Linked DNA regions of Homo sapiens. The protein of the gene in region 3 interacts with the protein of the main gene of each other region in a pairwise test. Each region holds a gene or a part of one and is shown on either strand. Other genes may lie near its edges.

Evidence for each region.
Region 1: the proteins of HSPB3 (region 3) and OLFML3 interact in a two-hybrid assay, tested with the Homo sapiens proteins (one large-scale study listed by BioGRID and IntAct).
Region 2: the proteins of HSPB3 (region 3) and LSM14B interact in a two-hybrid assay, tested with the Homo sapiens proteins (one large-scale study listed by IntAct).
Region 4: the proteins of HSPB3 (region 3) and PRP4K interact in a two-hybrid assay, tested with the Homo sapiens proteins (one large-scale study listed by BioGRID and IntAct).
Region 5: the proteins of HSPB3 (region 3) and BBOX1 interact in a two-hybrid assay, tested with the Homo sapiens proteins (one large-scale study listed by BioGRID and IntAct).

What each region holds. Positions count from the first base shown.
Region 1 is NC_000001.11:113,977,341-113,982,570, reverse strand, and holds OLFML3 (olfactomedin-like protein 3 isoform 1 precursor), read right to left. Parts: upstream 3,098-5,230; 5' UTR 3,055-3,097; coding exon 2,941-3,054; intron 2,848-2,940; exon of another isoform or gene 2,499-2,847; coding exon of another isoform or gene 2,445-2,498; intron 2,369-2,444; exon of another isoform or gene 2,240-2,368; coding exon 1,954-2,239; intron 1,623-1,953; coding exon 802-1,622; 3' UTR 318-801; downstream 1-317. UniProt on the Homo sapiens protein: Secreted scaffold protein that plays an essential role in dorsoventral patterning during early development. Stabilizes axial formation by restricting chordin (CHRD) activity on the dorsal side.
Region 2 is NC_000020.11:62,124,900-62,129,345, reverse strand, and holds part of LSM14B (protein LSM14 homolog B), read right to left. Parts: intron 3,121-4,446; coding exon of another isoform or gene 3,043-3,120; coding exon 2,907-3,042; intron 1,762-2,906; coding exon of another isoform or gene 1,645-1,761; intron 422-1,644; coding exon of another isoform or gene 314-421; intron 1-313. UniProt on the Homo sapiens protein: mRNA-binding protein essential for female fertility, oocyte meiotic maturation and the assembly of MARDO (mitochondria-associated ribonucleoprotein domain), a membraneless compartment that stores maternal mRNAs in oocytes.
Region 3 is NC_000005.10:54,453,989-54,457,473, reverse strand, and holds HSPB3 (heat shock protein beta-3), read right to left. Parts: upstream 1,776-3,485; 5' UTR 1,685-1,775; coding exon 1,232-1,684; 3' UTR 1,097-1,231; downstream 1-1,096. UniProt on the Homo sapiens protein: Inhibitor of actin polymerization.
Region 4 is NC_000006.12:4,052,260-4,056,705, reverse strand, and holds part of PRP4K (serine/threonine-protein kinase PRP4 homolog), read right to left. Parts: intron 3,987-4,446; coding exon 3,833-3,986; intron 1,154-3,832; coding exon of another isoform or gene 1,130-1,153; exon of another isoform or gene 454-1,129; intron 386-453; coding exon 271-385; intron 180-270; exon of another isoform or gene 18-179; intron 1-17. UniProt on the Homo sapiens protein: Serine/threonine kinase involved in spliceosomal assembly as well as mitosis and signaling regulation. Connects chromatin mediated regulation of transcription and pre-mRNA splicing.
Region 5 is NC_000011.10:27,043,198-27,047,643, reverse strand, and holds part of BBOX1 (gamma-butyrobetaine dioxygenase), read right to left. Parts: intron 1,403-4,446; exon of another isoform or gene 1,240-1,402; intron 459-1,239; exon of another isoform or gene 332-458; intron 1-331. UniProt on the Homo sapiens protein: Catalyzes the formation of L-carnitine from gamma-butyrobetaine.

The DNA.
Region 1 (5,230 bases), on a different chromosome or scaffold from region 3:
TCGGAACTGGAATCTCTGCCCTGGGCCCCAGTGTCTCACAGCCAGAGGCACGGTGCCACTGAGGTTCTAGGATGGCTGCTGTGGATTGGCTGCTGTGGATGGCGGTGGGTGTGGAAGGAGGCCTTTCGTCCAGCCTCCTAAAGTGGCGGGATTCTGCCACCTCCCCCAGGCGCCTCACAGTAAACTCTTCCTCAGCAAAGGGAGCCCCGCCCAAGTCTTTAATATGGCTCAAGGAGTGGGGATGGGTTGGGAGGGAGAAACTGGATGGTCAGGGGGAAGTTTGATCTGAGGGCTACCCCAAACAAACACAGGAGAGGAGCAGTGGATTTTCCTTTTAATGCAAAATGTTGCAATACAAAACAATGTGGAGAAAGTCCTGTTCCTCAGGACACTGAAGGGAGGAGTGAGGAAGAGAGGACAGAGCTGGACGTCTCCTCCTATTTCTCCCTCCCCAAGTCACTCTGAGGGGAAGAACACTGCTGCCTGCTCCCTGGGCCTGCCCGCATACAAGGTTAGAGCCCTGGGTCTGGGGCATCCTTAGCCTGAAATTTGTTGACATGGGGCAGGAGAGCAGGAGGGAACATTGAGGGTTTTGACTCTTCGGGCTCTAAAAGGATTACTCAGGATCTGGAGTTCCGTATGAAACAAAGGAGCTGAAAGAATTTGATTGCCATTGGCTAAAAATATAGAGGATTTGAGCCACAACTGGCCCACATTTGAAGAATGAGGAACAAGAAATTTAGTGGGGATATAATATAAATGTATGGGAGTGAGAAAGATGCAAAAAACAAGGCTAGCTCCTCAAACCTCCTCCTCTTTCTTCCTCATCTCCAGCTTATAGACAATCTGGTAGCCATCATCCCAGGCATAGAGCTGGCGTTCTCGGGGGTTATAGCGGAGGCTGGCATGGGCACCATATCTGCGGGGAAAATAAGGGAGTGCTGCCCGTTCAGGGGTCAGGGTGCCGCTGGCATCAAAGGAGCACTGGATGCGGGCCCGACTGGCAGGACGGGTGTTATAGACGACATAGAGGGTCCCACAGATGACAAAGGCAGCCTCAGCATTCTCTCTGGGACATGGTGTGTCCCACTGCTGCTCTGTGTCCAGTGTCTGTGGATCTAACTTGGCCAGACACAAGTGCCTGTCATCCTCCCGGGTGGCATAGACAGCCCAAAGACCTTCCTCATCAGCTGCCAGGTCGATGTAGGTGTCTGCTGTCAAGCCGTAGGGGGGGATCAGCCCCTCTGCTGGGAATACTGAGCTGTCCACCACTGTTCGGTTTGCCAGGTGGAATTTGATTAGCTGCAAAGTGTTCTCCATCTCACCACCTCCACCAGGTCTTCCAGGAGGCCTCCGAGCAAAATAAAGAAAGCCACCATATACCAGCTGCCCTGTGCCTACCCAGGGGAAGGGCACCCGGACTCGGGAAGCTTTCCGGGCAGCCATGGCAAGGGTGAAGTCACGCAGCCTTGGGAAGACAAAGGCTGTGTCATTCTGTGTCCCATCTAACACGTAGATCTTCTCTGTTTGCCCCAGTGGATCCTTGGTCCATAGACCAGCTGGGCCACCAAATCGCTTCAGAATCTTCATTGATCTCACTTGAGAGATTGTGTAGCCACAGTCTGATGAGAAAAGCACAGGAAAAGGAAATAGAGGCAAGAATTAGATGCCTCCAGCAGGAACTCCCCCAGGGTGGGTGATCTGGAGAATAGTGAGCATTTGCCCAGTGGTTGCCTCCAATCTTAGGGAGAATTGAGAAAGAGCGGGTACCACAGCGGCCTGGATCCCCAGAACCTCTCCTTAATAGACCTGGCATTACAGAGGTTTCCCTAAAACAGATTCCAGAAGACAGAGCCACAATGGACTGGGACAAAGCGAAAAAAAGAGTAAGAAGCAAGGAAGGAAGAATATCGGTTCTGAGAAGAGTTAGGGGCCTGCTTTCAGATTATTTACCTGTCACCATATCGTACTTCTCATTCCTTCTTCCCTTGCCTTTGGTCCCAGGGCCTCCAGTCACCTTCTCATCAAACTCTACACAGGGCAGAGCTGGGTTCTGGGTCTCCAGATAGTCTACCTCCCGCTCCAGACGATCCACTCTCCCGGAGATGGTGTCGGCCTCAGTTCTGAGTGCCTCCCGCTCCTTCTCTGCCACCTCCAGCAGTGGCAGCATCTTGTTCTTGAAGTCCCGCAGCTCAGCAGCATGCCGACTACTCTGGTCCTGGCACTGGGCCAGCCGTTCCTGAAGGGATGGGGGATCAGGAGGGAGGCTGCAGGGTTACAACTCCCAGGCAGGGAGAGGCCCAACTCGGGAGTCAGGAATGGGAAAAAAAGAGCAAACTCAGCCAGGCTTCAATATCCCCTTCCACTCCTGCAGAAAAGGAAACCAGATGTGCAGAGGTGCTAAATGTGCAAAGAGCCTAGCTGAGATTCACCTAGGCCCCTACCCCGACTCCATGTCCTCCAGCCTGTGTTCTCTGTGAGCAGTGCCACTGAGCCATCTGAGCCTCTAGGCAGGTCTAAGCGCATGAAGGTGTGAAGAGGTCTCTGCTCCCTTAGCAATTATCCTCTCGGACACTAAAATGCTACGGATCTCAACCTGTTAAAAAGACAGGAAGTTATAGATTCCCCGGGAACCTCCAACTTCAACAGAATCATCACCTTCTCTGGAGATGCAGCCCCACAATTTTGGCTCTCGTTTCCACTCTGCCCCCTTATTCTATCTAATCCCAGAGGTAAAACGCAAAAGTCGATTTGCTTTGGAATTGTTCTATGTGGGGTAAGAGGAGGGCTTGTCATTCCGAAGGTCCTCTTATTAAGAGAGAATTTTCTGTAGACTCTAACAGAGCCCTTTCTTGTTATCCCCAGATCCCTAACAAACTGGTTGAACCAATAGCCCTGGAATCCTTCTAGGCGGGGCTAGAAGAGAAAGGGGTCCCTCACCTCTAAAGCAGCTAGTCGGCGTTCCATGTACTCCACAAGGTGGTGCTGCTGTCCTTGGAGGGGTCCCGACCATGACAAAAGGAACAAGATGAGGAGAGGGGTGCTGGGCCCCATGGCAGCCTGGAGAGTGGTGCCAGAGTAGAAGGAACGTACAGTCAGCCTCTTCCCCTCAAGCCCGAGGGTTAGCTTTGGAGGCGGGGTGGGGGCGGTGCCTTCTCTCCTGATCTCTGGGTCTCTCTCACTACTCTGGAATGCTTTCAGTTCTCTTTACAACCCCCACCCCCTCCTTTCCGCCAGGATTGATCAAACACAGATGGCCCCATTGCACAGCAGCCAGAAGCCTTAACCACCTCCCGCCTAGGCTGTAGGGTCCTCTGGAGGGGAAAGAGATGGAAACCCGAAAGCAGAGGCCTTCTAGGCAGTCAAGCAGGGAAGCTAGCTGCAGAAAGCAGAGACCCCAGAGAAAACTCAGCAAACGCCATTCCTGTTTTAGGAAAGTTTCACCAGTGCTGACTTAAGAAACTGACATTTTTCATTAATCTTTCCCTTTCCCTGCAATAGAGTGGGTTTTCAGCCTTGTTCAGTAGAAGCTGGGAGCTGGGGAGGTGAGGCTTGAAGGGAGGAAGCAGGAAAACAATGGCCCAAGTGGTCAAGCCCAACTTATTCTAAAGCTCATTGGCGCCACCTTGTGCTAAGCAGCTGGTGTCATCTCTCATGATAATACAGAAACTAAGGCTTAGACTTCACCCCATGAGGAAAATTTTCCACAAAAGCCAAATATATTGAATTTACAGGGGTTTTCACCACTGAAATGCATATTTCCCCCAAGACTATCCAATTACTACTTTGGGGGCTATGCAAATATCTGATTTAGCCCAAGGAAGAAAATATAACTGAGATTAAAAAAAAAAAAAAAACAGGTCACTGAGAAGTTAGTAAATTAACTCGATCGTCTGGAAGTTAAGGCTGACAGCAGCGCTGTTTTACATGGCTTTCCTTTGCTTGAAAGAGGCCAGATATAGTCTCTCACCAAAACTGAGGAGTGTTCAGTGAGTTCACACTAATTTACTATACATTCATGTATTGCGGGGGGGCGGAATCTGATATATATATATATGTTGTTGCAGTCTAGATCAATGTATTCTGACTTCCTTACCACTGGGAGAAAAGACTATTGGTTATTTCTCTTGGTTGTGGTCCAAAAGGGTATTTCTGAGTGTTTCTCATTTCTATATCCCAACTAAGGCTGCAGGAGCCCAAAATGAATTAATGGCCACCATAAGGTAGACTTGGGCCATAAGGTAGACACACGGGCCGAAAAAAAAAATCAAATAGAGCATTTACTCAGAGACCTGCAGTCATTAATCGAAACAAACCCCTATTTCTTTATCGGGAGAAATTCTATTCACTTTAGAATCAACAGAATCTGATGAGAGGTTCCTTCTGTAAAAAGGACCATGACTCTAACAGTACAGTTTGAAAGGAGGGGAAAAATAGCAGCTTCCTGTGGTTACTCATCTTTTCATTCTGCTACTGCTATCTGGCAAAACATATGAGGAAACAAAGCTTAATTAGCCGGTCTCAGAAGTCTTCTACCTCTTTCAAAGGGTCAGATCCAGATGATGTGAAGTAAGGACCCTGGACACTGCATTCTTGGGAAGTATTCCCTGCCAAACCCTATTCATTTCCAGTATGGAGATTTGTGTGAAGAATGAAATTGTCTCTAGTACTCTACTGATGTTCAAATACAATATGCTTAGCCACTTTCAAAGATGTCATTTATTGATCCCCTTTATATCCTATAACAGAAGTCAAAAACAGCCACATAAGTCAGAAAATTTACCCATTTTATTGATGCATTGCAATTGCTCTACATTTTACCATATTATGTAGAAAATACTGAAAATACAAGCTACTTTGTAAAACCAAAGACAAACATTGAATCCAAAGATAAACTATGTTTTACACAATGGACCCTTTTCCCATAGTTAGTATTAAATTTTAAATATCTATTTCTTTTGTTAAAATGATTATTTTACATACTCCCTAAGTACATCTGCATTACAAACATAGCTCAGTAATTCTCAGAAACTATCTGTTTCTAGAGGCTTGTTGTAAAAGAAAGCGCACAACCAAAAAAAGGGAGAAAGCAAAAAAAGTTTAAATCGCACACAATAACTAGCATATCAAATACATTTAATAAAGTAGGAATTCCATTGCAATATCAAGGATTCAAAGCAGAAATACTAACATTACATATAATGTACATATAATGTACTGCTACATGTAG
Region 2 (4,446 bases), on a different chromosome or scaffold from region 3:
AGAAGAACCAGCCCAGCCTGGGATTTTCTAGAAAATGCAGTGAACAAATTCTGAAGTTAAATTCTACAACACTGTCATTTCCACTTAAGGCACAATAAAACTAAAAATGATGAAGCAGGAGCTGACTTCCGAGACGTAGCAGCCTACACTTCTCTCAAGGGCAAAGGCTCATCATGAAGACACAAAGGGCTCCTAGGTAGCCTTTGGCAAGGGGCTATGCCTATGAAACTGCAGTCCGAGGCCCACGCACAGGGGATGAACCCTCAGAAACCAGGCCCTCTGAATCAGGAGGAAAATGGGAAGCACCACCCACCTCTCTCCATCTCCTCCCTTTCCAAGGTTCCAGGACCTGTAGGGACTCTAAACAGGACAATGTGGGACTGGGTGTAAGTGAACAGAGATCTGAAACAGAAAAGGCACCCTAACCACAGGGTAATTATTATTAGACGAACAGCCCAATACACATGAAGACTGGGCATCTCATCTTACTGCTTTTACGGAATAGAAATGAAAAAAAAAATTGACTGTAGAAAAATTCCTTGTAACCAGATCAAGAGAAGCTCTCAAAGGGCAGGTTGGAACGACTCTGCATAGAGGTCTGGAAAGTGTCCTCTGGCGGGAATGCACCCGGGCCACTTTCTCACTGATTGTCTCACTCAGCATGTCCGGGAGACAAACACAGCACTGCCTGCCTGCTGATCATACTGTGACTGCAGGGGCATGGATAAGGGGCTTGTCTGCTTTTTACACAACCAACTAGTTCAAACAAAGTCTTGCCCTATGAGCAGGTTTAGGTAACTGATCCTAAGAGCAATAGAAGTATCTGTGTCATTTTTAAGTGGGGGAAAAAAAAAGACTACTCTGTAACTCAGATACACAGAGTGCATGCAGGATTTGGAAAGCAGCACCTGCAGAATGACAGACTGACAGCAGCTGTGTGCCATAAGGAAAGCCCAGGCATCAACCTGGACCAGGGCCGGGTAATGGCGATGGTTCAGCTTGTCAGGGTGCTATGTGTAACACAAACATACAGCAAGATCGTCAATATGAATTTTAGAACTTCAGGGGAAATGAGTAGAACGTGAGAAAAGATCTAGAAACCCCACAGGTGCCGCCACCACCACAGCACAGAGACAGGTGGTGTACACTGGCCAGCTGGCCATCAGGCTGATACTGTCCACCTGGCCAAACAGTTGGCGACTGTCACCCAAGCCCCTAATTTTGAATCCCCTCAATGAGTGATCTATGAACCACACGGATCAAAGAGCAAAACAGGCATGTCAGGTGCTTTGGGGAGTCCCCCCTGCAGCACTCTGGAACACATTTAGGACCCAGCAAAAACCCCAGGGAAATGACTTTCTGTGAACAGTGAAGTTTCCCGTATGTGGTAGTCATGGTACAGGTCAACAGAGAACCTGGACCCAGGGAGAGAGAACAAACTACTCCGCTGATTCTTCGTAATCCCTTCTTTAACACTGAGAGTTCATCAATCAGGACTACATGCTGAAGCAAAACAAGCAGCTCAGCGGCTGCATGGGCTTGGCAAATGATCTGCTACAGCTACTGTCATTCTGTCTGCTGCTTTACCCCTCGCTCTCAGAATGGTTTGCAAGACAGCATGCAGTTCTCCCAAACTGCTGTTACCCTTGGCAGTGAGCTGCTGTGGCTCTGAGGACAAGTCAAGCTCTGAAACGGGCTGTGGAGATGGAGAAGAGCTAGGGCTGGAAGCAGCGGCTGAGGCTGGAGGGCTTACCAACTTCTCTAAAGGAAGATAAAGGAGAAAGAGCAAAAAGAAAGCACACAAATAAGTCAGGATACACTTGTCTTGTGTCTAGCAAGCTTGGAAAGAGCCAAGCAACCTCTTGTAGGATTCTGTCATACAAACACGTTTTAGAAACCCAGAGAGCTGGGCTGGGAAGGCCGCCTGTCACACTAGGAATAGCAACCAAGCAAGCATGATTTGTAGCAGCAAGTGGCCTACAGACCTCGTTTAGGGTTCCCTGTCTCACTACTTCATGCTGGATTCTGAGCAAGGGTCGTGGATCACCTGCCAATTCTACACTCTGAGCCCATCTGCAAAGCTAGGTCCAGGTTAAGGACAAGGCAGGATCTTTCTCTACATATGGAGAATAGAATCATACTCTGGGGTTTTTCAATCTTGGTTGAAACCATTTTTGAGCGAGGCACTTACAGTAGAATAAGGGACATGATGGGTGGGTTTGTATTTCACGTCTATATTTACAGGCTTATAAATGTGCAAACAGCTAGACTTCATCTGTAATACTACATATATATCAGCTATTTCTTCTTTGAAGCAGATATACCAGGACTTCCACCTATTTATTTTTTGAGACAGAGTCTCACTGTGCCGCTCAGGCTAGAGTGCAGTGGTGCAATCTCAGTTCACTGCAACCTCTGCCTCCCAGGTTTAAGCAATTCTCATGCCTCAACCCCCCAAGTAGCTGGGATTACAGGTGTGTCCCACCACACCCAGCTAATTTTTGTATTTCTAGTAGAGACAGGATTTCCCCATGTTGGCCAGGCTGGTCTCGAACTCCTGACCTTGTGATCCACCCGCCTTGGCCTCCTAAAGTGCTGGGATTACAGGAGTGAGCCACTATGCCTGGCCCAGGACTTCCACCTAGATCCGCCCTGACTCTTCGAATGAATTTTGATTTGATTCTTCTGTTCCAACACTCAGGCTGCTGCCTCTTTTACTTTCAGTTGAGTAGTTACTAAATGCTCTCACAAGCGGAAGTTGCACTGGGTAATTTACTAAGTGTGCAACAAAACAGTCTACAAGCTGAGCATGACAGGAATGCATATCCCCACCCTCAGGCTCCATCGCTCCACTCAGTGACAGTTACACGCAAGGGTAGTTTACCAGACAGAAACAGGTCACTCACCTAGACCCAGGGAGGCGGCATACTGCTGGCTGAGCAGGGAGCTGGCCGCCAGCGGGCCGTAGGGCGCCATCCCTCGGAAAGGGCTGTAAGGCACGTGCGGCTGGAAGGGCGAGGCGGAGGCAGAACCCAGGGAAGACTGAACAACGAGACATCGGGTGAGAACGGCGAAGGCCATCCCATCACCCCGCACGCCTTCATCAGGGCGCTTGTTCAGCTGGGAAACAAGCACCGTCCCATCAGCCTGCACCCTTGAGATGCTGGAGGAGCCCTTGGGGTGCAAGTTTCCAGTATGGTGAGAGCTGCCTTTTCCACAGCATTTCAGTTCCAGTTTCACCTGTCCATGTAATTCCTTTTTTTGTTTTGTTTTGTTTTTTGTTTTTTGAAAGAGTATTGCTCTGTCGCCTGGGCTGGAGTGCAATGGCGTGATCTCAGCTCACTGCAACCTCTGCCTCCCAGGTTCAAGCGATTCTCCCAGCCTCAGCCTCCCGAGTAGCTGAGATTACAGATGCCCACCACCACACCCAGCTAATTTTTGTATTTTTGGTAGAGACGCGGTTTTGCTATGTTGGCCAAGCTGGTCTTGAACTCCTGACCTCAGGTGATCTGCCCACCTCGGCCTCCCAAAGTGCTGGGATTACAGGTGTCTTGTCCATGTAATTCTAACCCAAATTTCTCCTAACTCAAAGCCATCGGATGGCTTCCCACTGCTCCCAAAGCCGGCCCTGTGTGATCCCACCTTCCAGGATGGGTGCTCAGCACAGAACCTAATGCAGTCTGAACCCCAGAGGAGCTAGTGAATATTTAAATTTAGAAGTGAAGAAAATATTAATCTGGGCTCCCTGGGGGAGCATGGGCAAAATAAGCCATAACCCAATAAGCAGGCACATGGCATCAGACTTGCAAATCTGGTGTTGTATAACAGCAGCATGTAACGACTGGGCGTAACCCGAGGGCAAGCCCTGCAGTCCCTGCAGGTAGGTCACGCCACTCACAGCAGCTGCTCAGGGCTCAGACTTCTCCAACCAGAAACTAAGGGCAAACGCTATGCCCGAAACATCACAGGTCCAGGAGCATCCACTCATACCACACTACACTACACACGCGCACATGCACACCCAACTCCCCAGGTCGCCTTCCTTAAGAGCCACGTGACACAGCACACACCACCTACTGTGTGTGCTACAAGAATCAACACCTTCTGTGAGAGCAGCAACAGCCTGGACAAAAGTTAAGCCACTTTTCATTAAAAGGTTATTCCTCAGGCTGGGTGTGGTGGCTCACGCCTGTAATCCTAGCACTTTGGGAGGCCAAGGCGGGTGCATCACAAGGTCAAGAGATTGAGACCATCCTGGCCAACATGGTGAAACCCCGTCTCTACTAAAATTACAAAAATTAGCTGGGCATGGTGGTGCGTCCCTGTAGTCCCAGCTACTCGGGAGGCTGAGGCAGGAGAATTGCTTGAACCTGGGAAGCCAAAGTTGCAATGAGCTGAGATCACGCCACTGACCTCCAGCCTGGTGACACAGCGAGACGCTGCCTC
Region 3 (3,485 bases):
CTGGGATACTGTCAGCAATCTGCATTTGCCCTGGTGTTTTCCACACCCTGCATTCCATGTCTATTCTTAGCACTGTCCTTGGGCTGCTTGTCAGCTCACATTCAGTGCGGGGTAAAAGGCAGGCAGCCACTGCCTCTGAAGAAATACTTAATGTATACAGAATGAGATAGCAAACCTTTGGAATGTCCCAGAGCAGCTGTTGAAGGCACTAGTCCTTAACCTCTACCAATGTCTCCACCTTGAGCCAAGGCAGTAGTTTGGGAGAATATAATAAGCACCAATCATCAGATGTGCTGTGTAAACTCAGACACGCAGTGTAAGCTCAGGTGTTGAACTTCCATTGGCTGCCAGGCTATTTAAAGCTAAGGATTATGCAGAGATAGCAGATGTGTTACATTTTGCCATCTAAGTTTATGGAGCATCTAAAAAGCACAGATTAAAACTCACTGAATTCAGCAATCAAACTTTTAAAAGTGGTGTCCTTAAGCTTCATATTAATTTACAAGAGGATATGTAAATACATATCTCATGAACATTTTGTACGTGTCCATAGAACTTATACTATCTTTAAAAAGTCAAAACACTTCAGATAGGATTCAGTATATCTTTAAAAAGATGAATGAGGTACATATTTGAACTTTTTAAAAATAAGATTTATATCTGAAAATTCCCATTGACCTTTAAGGCAGTAACAACTATACTAAATCATAAATAGATATCAGACCCAATTTCCAAATACTGTATTTTAATTTTTGCACTCCATATTTATAAAACCTCATTTTAATTAAAATACATTAAAAAGAAAAGCTTATCGAGTGAAGGGAATCACAACTCTTTTTGGCAAAATAAAAGATTTTCATAAAATGGATAGGAATTCCTTAAATGGGTATAGCTCTTTTGCCATCAGTGATTACAAATGCAGCTGGCATTGTTGGAATAATAAGAAACAATTCGGAGTCCTCTCTAATATCCAAATACAGCCTTCTGTATTTTCAATGTTTCAGTTGTAAGAATAGTATCAGTTTGAGCCACACAAACATATTTACAAATTTTCCTTTCTGAGTAAGAATAATAAAGACAACCTCAACATACCAGGAACTGTGTATATATTTTTAATCTTCATAAAAATCATAGCAAATCATTTCAAATGTGGGTAATACAAACATTCTCGTAGTACCAGTGGCTGAACCATCATCTTCCCCATGTCATCTGAACAGGAACCGATACGATGTCACTTAGTCCCAACTGGATCCTTTACTTCCACCACCAAAATTCCATCATGACAGAGGACTGCAGACAAATCTTTGATTTCCACACCATCTGGTAGTTTGTACTGTCGGGTGAAGCTTCTTGAGATAAAACCGTGCTCATCCATTCTGGTTCCGTGTTGTGCTTTTATCAGCAGCCAGCCTTCGAAGGTCTGAATGATGATGTCTTCAGGGAGGAACTGGACCACGTCCAGCAGGATCTGAAAGTGGGATTTGCCTTCTCGGGGTGGCGTCTCTGCCGCTGAGTCCACTGGAGGAGACTGCGCTGCCCTGGTTTTCCTCAGGTCCACGATGGTTGGCCCAGGCAGTGCATATAAAGCATGATCCAGCCTGCAGTCTTCTAGACCTCGAGCTTCAAACTCTTCCTGGTAACGCACTGGAATCTCTATGAGGTGCCTCAAAATGATTTTTGCCATAGTGAAGGCAAAAACAGCCTTGAACAGCCTCCTTCTGCCAACCTTCCACTGCCTTCAGTCAGTGGCGAGCCCCTGCAGTTGCCTACTGACTGGATTACCAGTTGAAGCAGCTAGTGGTTTATAGCCGTGCCCAGACGCAATCACTTAATTAGGCCTGAATCATAGCACGGAATGCTCTCTTGTCTTTTCACACATGCTGACAATGAACGGCTATTTATAGGGCATGTTTCCCAGTGCATTTAGCACACAGCCTGCACAAGCTGCCCAGTCATGGATTGCCCTTACATTCTCAGTTATCCTTGGCAAATGTGTCTGCCTTGCTTACTTCAAGAAAGAGAGTGGGAATCGAAAATGGTATTTGAAAAATATCTGGGTGAGGCCAGGTGCGGTGGCTCATGCCTGTAATCCCAGCACTTCGGGAGGCTGAGGCGGGTGGATCGCCTGAGGTCAGGAGTTCAAGCCCAGCCTGAACAATGTGGTGAAACCCTGTCTGTACTAAAAACACAAAAATTAGCTGGGCATGGTGGCTTATGTCTGAAATCTTAGCTACTTGGGAGGTTGAGGTAGGAGAATCGCTTGAACCAGGAGGCAAAGGTTTCAGCGAGCCAAGACCATACCGTTGCACTCTAGCCTGGGCAATAGAGTGAGACTCCATCTCAACAAACAAACAAACAAACAAAAACCAAAAATATCTGGGTGGGTGCTTTCTCCCTGTGAACTTCAGTAATCTAAGGGAATAGGACTTCTTAGAACAGTCAGAGATGTTCACTCATAATATGAACTGGGATCACATTTTCCCTCGTCTCCAGATACAAAGCTGGGGAGGGCAGAATCTAGCTGTAATTCAGAAAGAATTAATACACACATATTCAAATCTCAGCCATTCAACAAACTGCCCTGTGTCCTATGCATTTCCTTTTATTTTATCTTTTAGTCTTTTGGGCTAAAAGACACATTATCTGGGTTTATTTACATCTGACTCATCAAAATTAGATCAGATGACTAAGCTAGAGAAGTGACAAACGTCAGATGGGGGCTGCAGGGGCATAGGATGGGGAATTTTAGTGATGAAAATAGAGCCACAAAGAAGAGAAAAATGTCAAAGCTTTGAATGATTTGATATGAACCTCCAAAAATCTAAGGATTAATCTTGTCACAGCTCTGCTACTGAGTTGGCAAAAATAAATTAAATATAATTTCCCCACTATATCACCCTTTATACTAAACTTACCCTGAAAAAGAATGAGGCAACTCCTTATCCACAGCTATGGAAGAATCTCCAAGATATGTTAAATCAAAAAGAAAAGTCCAGGGCAATATATGATATGCTAGTGTTTATACTTTTTTTTTTTTTGAGACAGAGTCTTGCTCTGTCACCCAAGCTGGAGTGGGTGACAGCCTCGAAGTCCTGGAATCAAGAAATCCCTCACTCTCAGCTTCCTGAGTAGCTGGGACTATAGAACCATGCCACCATGCCCAGTTAGTTTTTTTGATTGTTTTTTTAGAGATGGGGGTCTTGTTATGTTGCCCAGGCTGGTCTCTAACTCCTGGCCTGAAGAGATCCTTCCACCTCATCCTCCCAAAGTGCTGGAATTACAGACGTGAGCCACTGCACCAGGCCTTATTTATACTTTTTTAAAAAGTATGTATTTGCTTATATTAATAAAATCTCTCTGAAAGCTTTGTAGCTGAAGACAGTGGGTGCCTCCTGAGAGTGATTGGCAGGTGGGGGCTGGAAGGAGACCTAATTTTTTACTGTAAATACTTCTGTGCTATTTATTTACTTACTATTTTTATTATT
Region 4 (4,446 bases), on a different chromosome or scaffold from region 3:
AAATGTGATAATCAGACCTTGAATAATCAAGAGCAGTCTTCTAAAGTCGAGGATTTTCCACAACTGTTTTGCTACTCTTGCCCGACATGATCAAGACTCCTGTCACAACTACCTTCATTCCACCTGAGGAGGATGAACTTGCTATGGTTCCCTTCCTCATGAATGAACTCGTGCAGCTGCTGAAGTGTGATGGAAAACAGTGCTTAGACATTAAGTATGCGGTTTCCACCACATATGATGGCCCAGGTCAAAGAACATTAAGAAACTTACTGATTTCAGGAGCACGATAAAATCTACTGACAAGATAAGGTGTTATGTCATTATCCGCAACATGTGAAGCCGACCCAAAATCGCAAAGCTTTAAAATAGTTTTGGATTCATTAACCTGCAAAACATTTTTTCAAGGGAATTTAATTCAAGCCAGGAATAATTAATACAAATAAATAAAAATTATTGGCTTTGAAAAGTTTTATTAATTCCAATACTGAGAACAAAGACATTCATTTAAAAATTCCTTTTCTATTTATTTTTAATTCAATTTCCTAACTATGAAAAGTTAATATGTATCAAATATTCATTACAATGAGTAAAAACTGTTTTCAGTGAGGAAATGGATATCACAAAGTACATTTAATTTTAACAACTGCATTTTTAAAAGGGTGGGGTACTGAGAGAAAAATCTAATTTCATGAAGCAAAGCATCTTCTAAAAAGACCCTGAATACCTGAATAAAGTCAAGTTTTATAACTAAGGAATCAGACTTAACTTTCAGTTGCCAGAGAATTACAATGGCAATGAAAGCAGAAGGGTGATTCAGAATAAACTTGGACAAAAACAAAATATTCTTCATCCGAAGCTGCTATATGATCCCAAATTTAGCAATCACTTCAAGTCTAAAAAATATTAAATCCCTCAAATATAAAGAAGGTATTAGTCAAGAAAATGTTAAATATATCTGGCAAAACTGATAAACATGAACTCTATATTAGTCATTTGTTTCTTTTTTCCTTTGTAAATACTTCAACATACACAGTAATAGTGACATCTGCTGAGAAAGGCTGGAGTTGCTCCCATGACTGCTGCCACTCATGAGTCAGAGGCATGTTCAGGATTAACAAGTGAAGATAATTCATATTCCAGAGTCCCTTCCCCCCTTCAAAAGAGACACACACAAATTCCGAGTTGGGACTTGAACTTGGCCTACTGCTCCCACCCCAAAGCAGCATAACACTATAGCCTTAGGCAGTCTCTATGGGGAGACTGGACTATTATAAATGATATCCAGAGTTAAGCTATTAATAGGAACAGAAATGATTATTTTTAACTCCCACATTGATTACTATTCTTTTCATCTTGGGAATCAGAAAAGCATCTTAAAATAGAAAAGTTATTTTAAAACTTTTTAAAGTGTAAGCTGAATTCAGCTACTTAAGCAGTTTCAATACCCACAGAAAACTTAAGAACCATTTTAAAATTAGAATCCATCAGTGGAACTCTTGGGCTGGCTAAAATGCCTTAAAGAATAGCAGGGTATCCATACTCATATGCACTTCAGTTTGCTACACAACTTCTGCTCCTGTCATGAGGAATGTGGTACTTAAACCACACTGATACCTGAAATTACGAGCTAAAGGCTTTGGATTTTCATTAACAAAAATCAGCTCCGTCATTAAGGTCTATTTTTTCCTTCCCCAGGAAGACGGGAAAACATTTCTTAAATGTATGTGAAAACCTATACTAGTTTAGCATTAGGTTTTAAAAACAAGAGTTTCTTCTGTGACACTGGCAAATGTGTTATTCTTTAACCTCCACAATGGTCACAAAGACGCTCACTGTAAATGACCTTTTAAATTGTACATGTTTTGCATATTCTTTGACATGAACCATGTATTTCACAATTAAAAAACAAAAAATTGGCTCACGCTTATAATCCCAGCACTTTGGGAGGACGAGGCGGGCAGATCACGAGGTTAGGAGATTAAGACCATCCTGGCCAACATGGTGAAACCCCGTCTCTACTAAAATACAAAAATTAGCTGGGCGTGGTGGCCCCTGCCTGTAATCCCAGTTACTCGGGAGGCTGAGGCAGGAGAAATGCTTGAACCAGGGAGTTGGAGGTTGCAGTGAGCCGAGATCACGCCATTGCACTCCAGCCTGGTAACAGGGCAAGGCTGTGTCTCATAAAAAAAACTGAGGTAAAAATCAACTATGAAATTGGCCACACAAATTTATACTTCATTTTTAATGTACCTACCATTTCAATGAAATTACTCAGCTCCCCTAACTCCAAGTTACATTAGATATACAATACAATAATAATTCAGACCAAACATAAAAATGGAATACACCTCATTACTAATGTGGTTGTCTGGAAGGAAATAAAGGAAATATTTTAAGATATTAACAAAAAAGAAAAAGAAATATGAATTAAATAGCTTAGTTATTGATTAAAAAAAAACTCCTTAAACTTTAATGAGATCACCATTTTTTAAAGAATTTATCTTGGCCAAGCATGGTAGCTCACACCTATAATCCCAGCACTTTGGGAGGCTGCAGCAGGAGGATTGCTTGAGCCCAGGAGTTTGAGACCAGCCAAACCTCATCTCTAAAAAAAATTTTTTTTAATTAGGCAGTCACAGTGGCATGTGCCTGTGGGTAGTCCCAGCTACTGGGGAGGCGGAGGCAGGAGAACTGCTTGGGCTTAGGAGTTGGAGGTTACAGTGAGCCATTATGGCACCACTGCACTCTAGCCTGGGTGACAGAACAAGACCTTACCTCAAAACAAAACAAAACAAAACAAAAAAAACAAAAGAAAAAATCAAAAGTATTTATTTTGTTATAGCTCCAAGAGTTCCCAATAAAGAACACCTTACACGCTTAGCTTTTAGTCTTCAGGATCTCTCCTAGGCATCAACTGTAGGAGAACTGATAAAGAGAACCCATTTTAAAAAAATGAAATGCAGAATGTTACCAGCATATAAGCTGGAATTCTCCAAGTTGCGAACACGACCCAAACTGAAGGCCACAAAACAGGGTAAAGTAATGGGGCCAGGGAGGGGAGGAGTGTGTGTGTGCATTAATCACATCACTATGATAATATGTATGTATTTCAAAATTTTAAAAACATATACATTGTGAAATCTGCTGTTACCACCAGAAGTCACTAGTCGAAGAGAATTAAGGTTTCAAAAGGTGAGAACACATGGACACACAGGGGAACAATACACACTGGGGTCCGTCAGAGGCTGGAGGGTGAGAGATGGGAGAGGATCAGGAAAAGTGGGTACAAACCCTCCATGACACAAGTTTACCTATGTAACAAGCCTGCACATGTACCCCTGAACTTGAAAGTTTAAAAATAAAATAAAATAAACTTCAAAAGCGATGCCTTTAAATATAATACCTAACCACAACTGAGCTTTATTGTGTTTGAGCCCCCAGGAGCCACAGCTTAGGGAGCTATAAAATTAGCAAACAGAAGAGTACGGACACTCCTTATTTCAAAACAGCAACATGTGCAGCATTTTTCTAAAGATAACAGAAGAAACTCATTACTACAGTAAAGCATTCCAGGATTGGTGCACACTTTAAATCTATCAGTCAAAAGAGAAAAAAAGGGACAATTGTACATTTCCTTTTTCTTCATACTTGTCAATAAAATTTCACTGTCCGATTTCCAAGAAAGATAAAAAAGTATTAGTCATTTGAAATAGGTTATTAATATACTGAACTATGCTTCTAAGATGTCGTTTCTCATAGTAATAATATTACTGCTAGTAAGAAGTGAAATGTATGTTCAAGATGTACAGCGCAGCTTGGCTGTTTGACTTACCAGGATATTGTCTGGCTTGATATCTGCATGTAGGATATTGCATCTTTTAAGGAGTTTCAATGCCAGGAACAACTGCTGACTATAGGATCTTACAGCTTTAATATGAAGACCAACATCTTTACCATATTTTTTTAACACCTCTCGTAAGTTCATGCTTTTAGGAGAAAATTAAAAAAAGAAAACAAAATAGGAGTTAAAATGCAAAATGGAAATATAAAAAGGCAAAAACATTTGCAAGCATAAAGTAAAATCAAGCGCAAAATAAAAATATGTAAGAACCACCCCCACATTTGATAAATCATTTTATATTGAAAGGAGAGCATATCAAATTGTATGTATATAACACAGTTTCTGAATAAATTCAAATTTTCTAAATAGGTAAGAAGAAAGATATGCAAGGTAAAACTCCCATTTCGATTTTAGAATAGATTCACATCTGAAAACACAACAAAGCCACACTGTTGAAGATAAAAATTCCTTCCTTGAAGTATTTCATTTTAAGAGAGACTCTCTGTTGAACCCGGGAGGTGGAGGTTGCAGCGAGCCAAGACTGCACCACTGTACTCCGGGAGGAGCAACAGAGTGAGACTGTCTCAACAACAACAACAACAACA
Region 5 (4,446 bases), on a different chromosome or scaffold from region 3:
TTTATGAAGTTCTTTGTGTGCTGATATATATATTAAACTCAATACATTTTAAAAAATATATTCATTCATGTGTTTGAAAATTTTTTGGCTGAAAGTATTTTTATATAACTTGAAATGTGAAACACTAATACTTAATGAATACCCAGTCCAGGGGTGCATTTTCTACCATGAGGAACATGGTTCCTCTGCTTAAAGATGGTGGTGTGCCCATGTCACACCAACTATTGAAGTGATCACTCCTATAGACATCTGTGCCAAGAAACATTAATTACATTTCAGACTGCTGTTTTGAGCTTTCTATCTGTTTTTTTCTTTTTCTTCTTCTACCTAGGTTTGAATGAGAGAGGCAGAAGCACATTTCCAATCACTGGGGGAACCTGAGACCATTCTTTCCAACCCATTTTGCCAAATGGATGTCCTGAGGAAGGTGTTCCAAGAGAGGCGATGTCAGGATAGTGTCTGATTGGAGGGTGCCCAAGGCACATGGGAGAATGTGGAAGAACTGGAAAGACTTGGGTGTTGCTGATGTTAAATTACTTAGGTATCTCTGTAGAAACTTAGTGGGTCATTCCTTCTCTTCACAATCCCTTTCTTAAATTTATGATAAACGTGAAAGGTAATCAAAACAAAAGCAGGGCAAAATGGGAAAATAAGTTCCCACTTTAACTTTTTCTGGATTATTTAAAGGTCTACTGGGGCAAATGTGATGAAAATTAAAAAAAAAATTGCAGATCATCAGTGTTTAAAAGCAAATGCTTTCTGAAAATTATAGCTTGTATGTTAACATGATTTGTTGAAATCTGTTTTTGTAATTTAACCAACTTGACTTGTTAGAATTGAGCTCAGTTGAAGCACCATAGCAATTTAGTTAGATGATAAGCTACTCTGTTTCTCTGAAGAAAAGAAAAATTTAGATATAGCTCCTATATATAGCTCCTAGCTATATAGGATGAATTTTTATCAGTGGGATGTCTTTGACAAATTAAAGAACACCTATAAAACAAAAATTCTTATTTTACACTTATTTTTCTTCTTACAATTGTAATTTAGTTTATGAAATATCAGATTGGTTTTGGTGGGAAACAGTAGTTTCACCTGTTCTGAAAAACAGCCTTTGGATTTTTGGCATATTCTTATCTGATGGGATAGGTTTCTTTTACTTCATATTAATACATGTGTGTAGTGTGTGTGTGTGTGTGTGTGTCTGTGGTGTGTTTCCCTCCTAATTTATTCACCTACCATATTTTTTCTCTTCAGAGTAATAGAAGTTTGTCTGGGACTTCTGTTGGGCACAAGTAAATTGCTTGTTTTTGAAATTACTTCAGTGATGGGTGTGGGTTTTCTCCTTTTTTTTCTTTTTCTTAATATTACAAATTCAAGTTTGTCTCCTGATTCTTCAGCACTGTTTGGAAAATCAAGAAAGTAGCTCTGAAATTTATTTTATGCATTGATCTTGGAAATAAAAGTAACTTAGAGCTAGAGCTTTTAGAGCCAGAAAGAAACAGCCTGTGCTATTGTTGGGTCACAGGGCCCTCATCAGACATGCAGGGAAAATGGAAGCTCAGAAATGTTGGGTGTGATTTGTCCAGGCTCACACTGCTCATTAGTGAGAAAGGTTGCCCCAAACCTGGATTTGCCAGCTAAGTTTATATGTATTAAGTGATACTCTTCAAGTTCTCATAAAAGAAATTGCAAAAGTTCTTCAAACATTACTTACAACTAATTTCAATCATAGGCTTTGGAGGGAATTCACAGGAAGCAGATGCAGAAACTTTATAGTTATTATACATAAAATTAAAATTGTAGTAGATTAATATGTACCTGAGAAGGCTGATTTATCTACTAAATTACTTATCCCTCAGAATAAAAGGCTGTTATTTCTTGAGTGTTTTTAGTAAATGGAAAACAAGACCAGCATAGACCTATGTTAGCAAACGTCAGTATCTGTTAATTTTCATCTCTTTCTCAGGAGAAGTATGATGCTTCGATAAAATTCAACAGCCCTTCATGCTAAAAACTCTCAATAAACTAGGTATTGAAGGAATATATATCAAAATAATAAGAGTTACTTATGACAAACCCACAGCCAATATCATACTGAATGGGCAAAAACTGGAAACATTCTCTTTGAAAACTGGCACAAGACAAGGATGCCCTCTGACACAACTACTATTCAACATAGTATTGGAAGTTCTGGCCAGGGTGATCAGTCAAGAGAAAGAAATAAAGCGTATTCAATTAGGAAAAGAAGAAGTCAAATTGTCTTTGTTTGCAGATGACATGAATTGTACATTTAGAAAACCCCATCTTCTCAGCCCAAAATCTCCTTAAGCTGATAAGCAACTTCAGCAAAGTCTCGGGATACAAAATCAATGTGCAAAAATCACAAGCATTCCTATACACCAATAACAGACAAACAGAGAGCCAAATCATGAGTGAACTCCCATTCACAATTGCTTCAAAGAGAATAAAATATCTAGGAATCCAAGTTAGAAGGGATGTGAAGGACCTTTTCAAGGAGAACTACAAACCATTGCTCAAGGAAATAAGAGAGGACACAAACAATGGAAAAACATTCCATGCTTATAGATAGGAAGAATCAATATCGTGAAAATGGCCATACTGCCCAAGGTAATTTATAGATTCAATGCTATCCCCATCAAGCTATAATTGACTTTCTTCACAGAATTGGAAAAAACTACTTTAAAGTTCATGTGGAACCAAAAAAGAGCCCACATAGCCAAGACAATCCTAAGCAAAAAGACAAAGCTGGAGGCATCATGCTACCTGACTTCAGACTATACTACAAGGCCACAGTAACCAAAACAGCATGGTACTGGTGCAAAAACAGATAGACCAATGGAACAAAACAGAGGCCTCAGAAATAATGCCATACATCTATAACCATCTGATCTTTGACAAACCTGACAAAAACAAGCAATGGGGAAAGGATTTCCTATTTAATAAATGGTGTTGGGAAAACTGGCTAGCCATATGTAGAAAGCTGAAACTGGATCCATTCCTTACACCTTATCCAAAAATTAACTAAAGATGGATTAAAGACTTAAACGCAAGACCTAAAACCATAAAAACCCTAGAAGAAAACCTAGGCAATATCATTCAGGACATAAGCATGGGCAAAGACTTCATGACTAAAACACCAAAAGCAAGGGCAACAAAAGCCCAAATTGACAAACTGGATCTAATTAAACTAAAGAGCTTCTGCACAGCAGAACTATCATCAGAGTGAATAGACAACCTACCGAATGGGAGAAAATTTTTGCAATCTATCCATCTGACAAAGGTCTAATATCCAGAATCTACAAAGAACTTCAACAAATTTACAAGAAAAAAAAACCCATCAAAAATGGGCAAAAGATATGAACAGACACTTCTCAAAAGAAGACATTTATGCAGCCAACAAACATATGAAGAAAAGCTCATCGTCACTAGTCATTAGACAAATGCAAATCAAAACCACAATGAGATACCATCTCATGTCAGTTAGAATGGTGATCATTAAAAAGTCAGGAAACAACAGATGCTAGAGAGGATGTGGAGAAATAGGAACACTTTTACACTGTTGGTGGGAATATAAAGTAGTTCAAACATTGTGGAAGACAGTGTGGCAATTCCTCAAGGATCTAGAACCAGGAATACCATTTGACCCAGCAATCCCATTACTGCGTATACACCCAAAGGATTATAAATCATTCTACTATAAAGACACGTGCACATGTATGTTTATTACAGCACTGTTCACAATGGCAAAGACTTGGAACCAACTCAAATGCTCATCAATGATAGACTGGATAAAGAAAATGTGGCATATATACACCATGGAATACTATGCAGCCATAAAAAAGGATGAGTTCATGTCCTCCGCAGGGACATGGAGGAAGCTGGAAGCCATCATTCTCAGCAAACTATCACAAGAACAGAAGACCAAATACTGCATGTTCTCACTCATAAGTGGGACTTGAACAATGAGAACACATGGACACAGGGAGGGGAACATCACATACCAGGGCCTGTGGCGGGGTAGGGGGCTAGGGGAGGGATACCATTAGGAGAAATGCTAGGGCAATTAGTCAAGAGAAAGAAATAAAGGGTATTCAATGTAGATGACGCGTTGATAGGTGCAGCAAACCACCATGGCATGTGTATACCTGCACATTCTGCACGTGTACCCCAAACCTGCACATTCTGCACATGTACCCCAAACGTGCACATTCTGCACATGTACCCCAGCACTTAAAAGTATAACTTAAAAAAAATTAGGACAGGGTGTGGTGGCTCATGCCTGTAATCCCAGCACTTTGGGAGGCTGAGGTGGGTGGATCACGAGGTCAGGAAATCGAGACCACCTTGGCTAACACGGTGAAACCCCGTCTCTACTAAAAATACAAAAAGTTAGCCGGGCGTGGTGGCGGGCGCCTGTAGTCC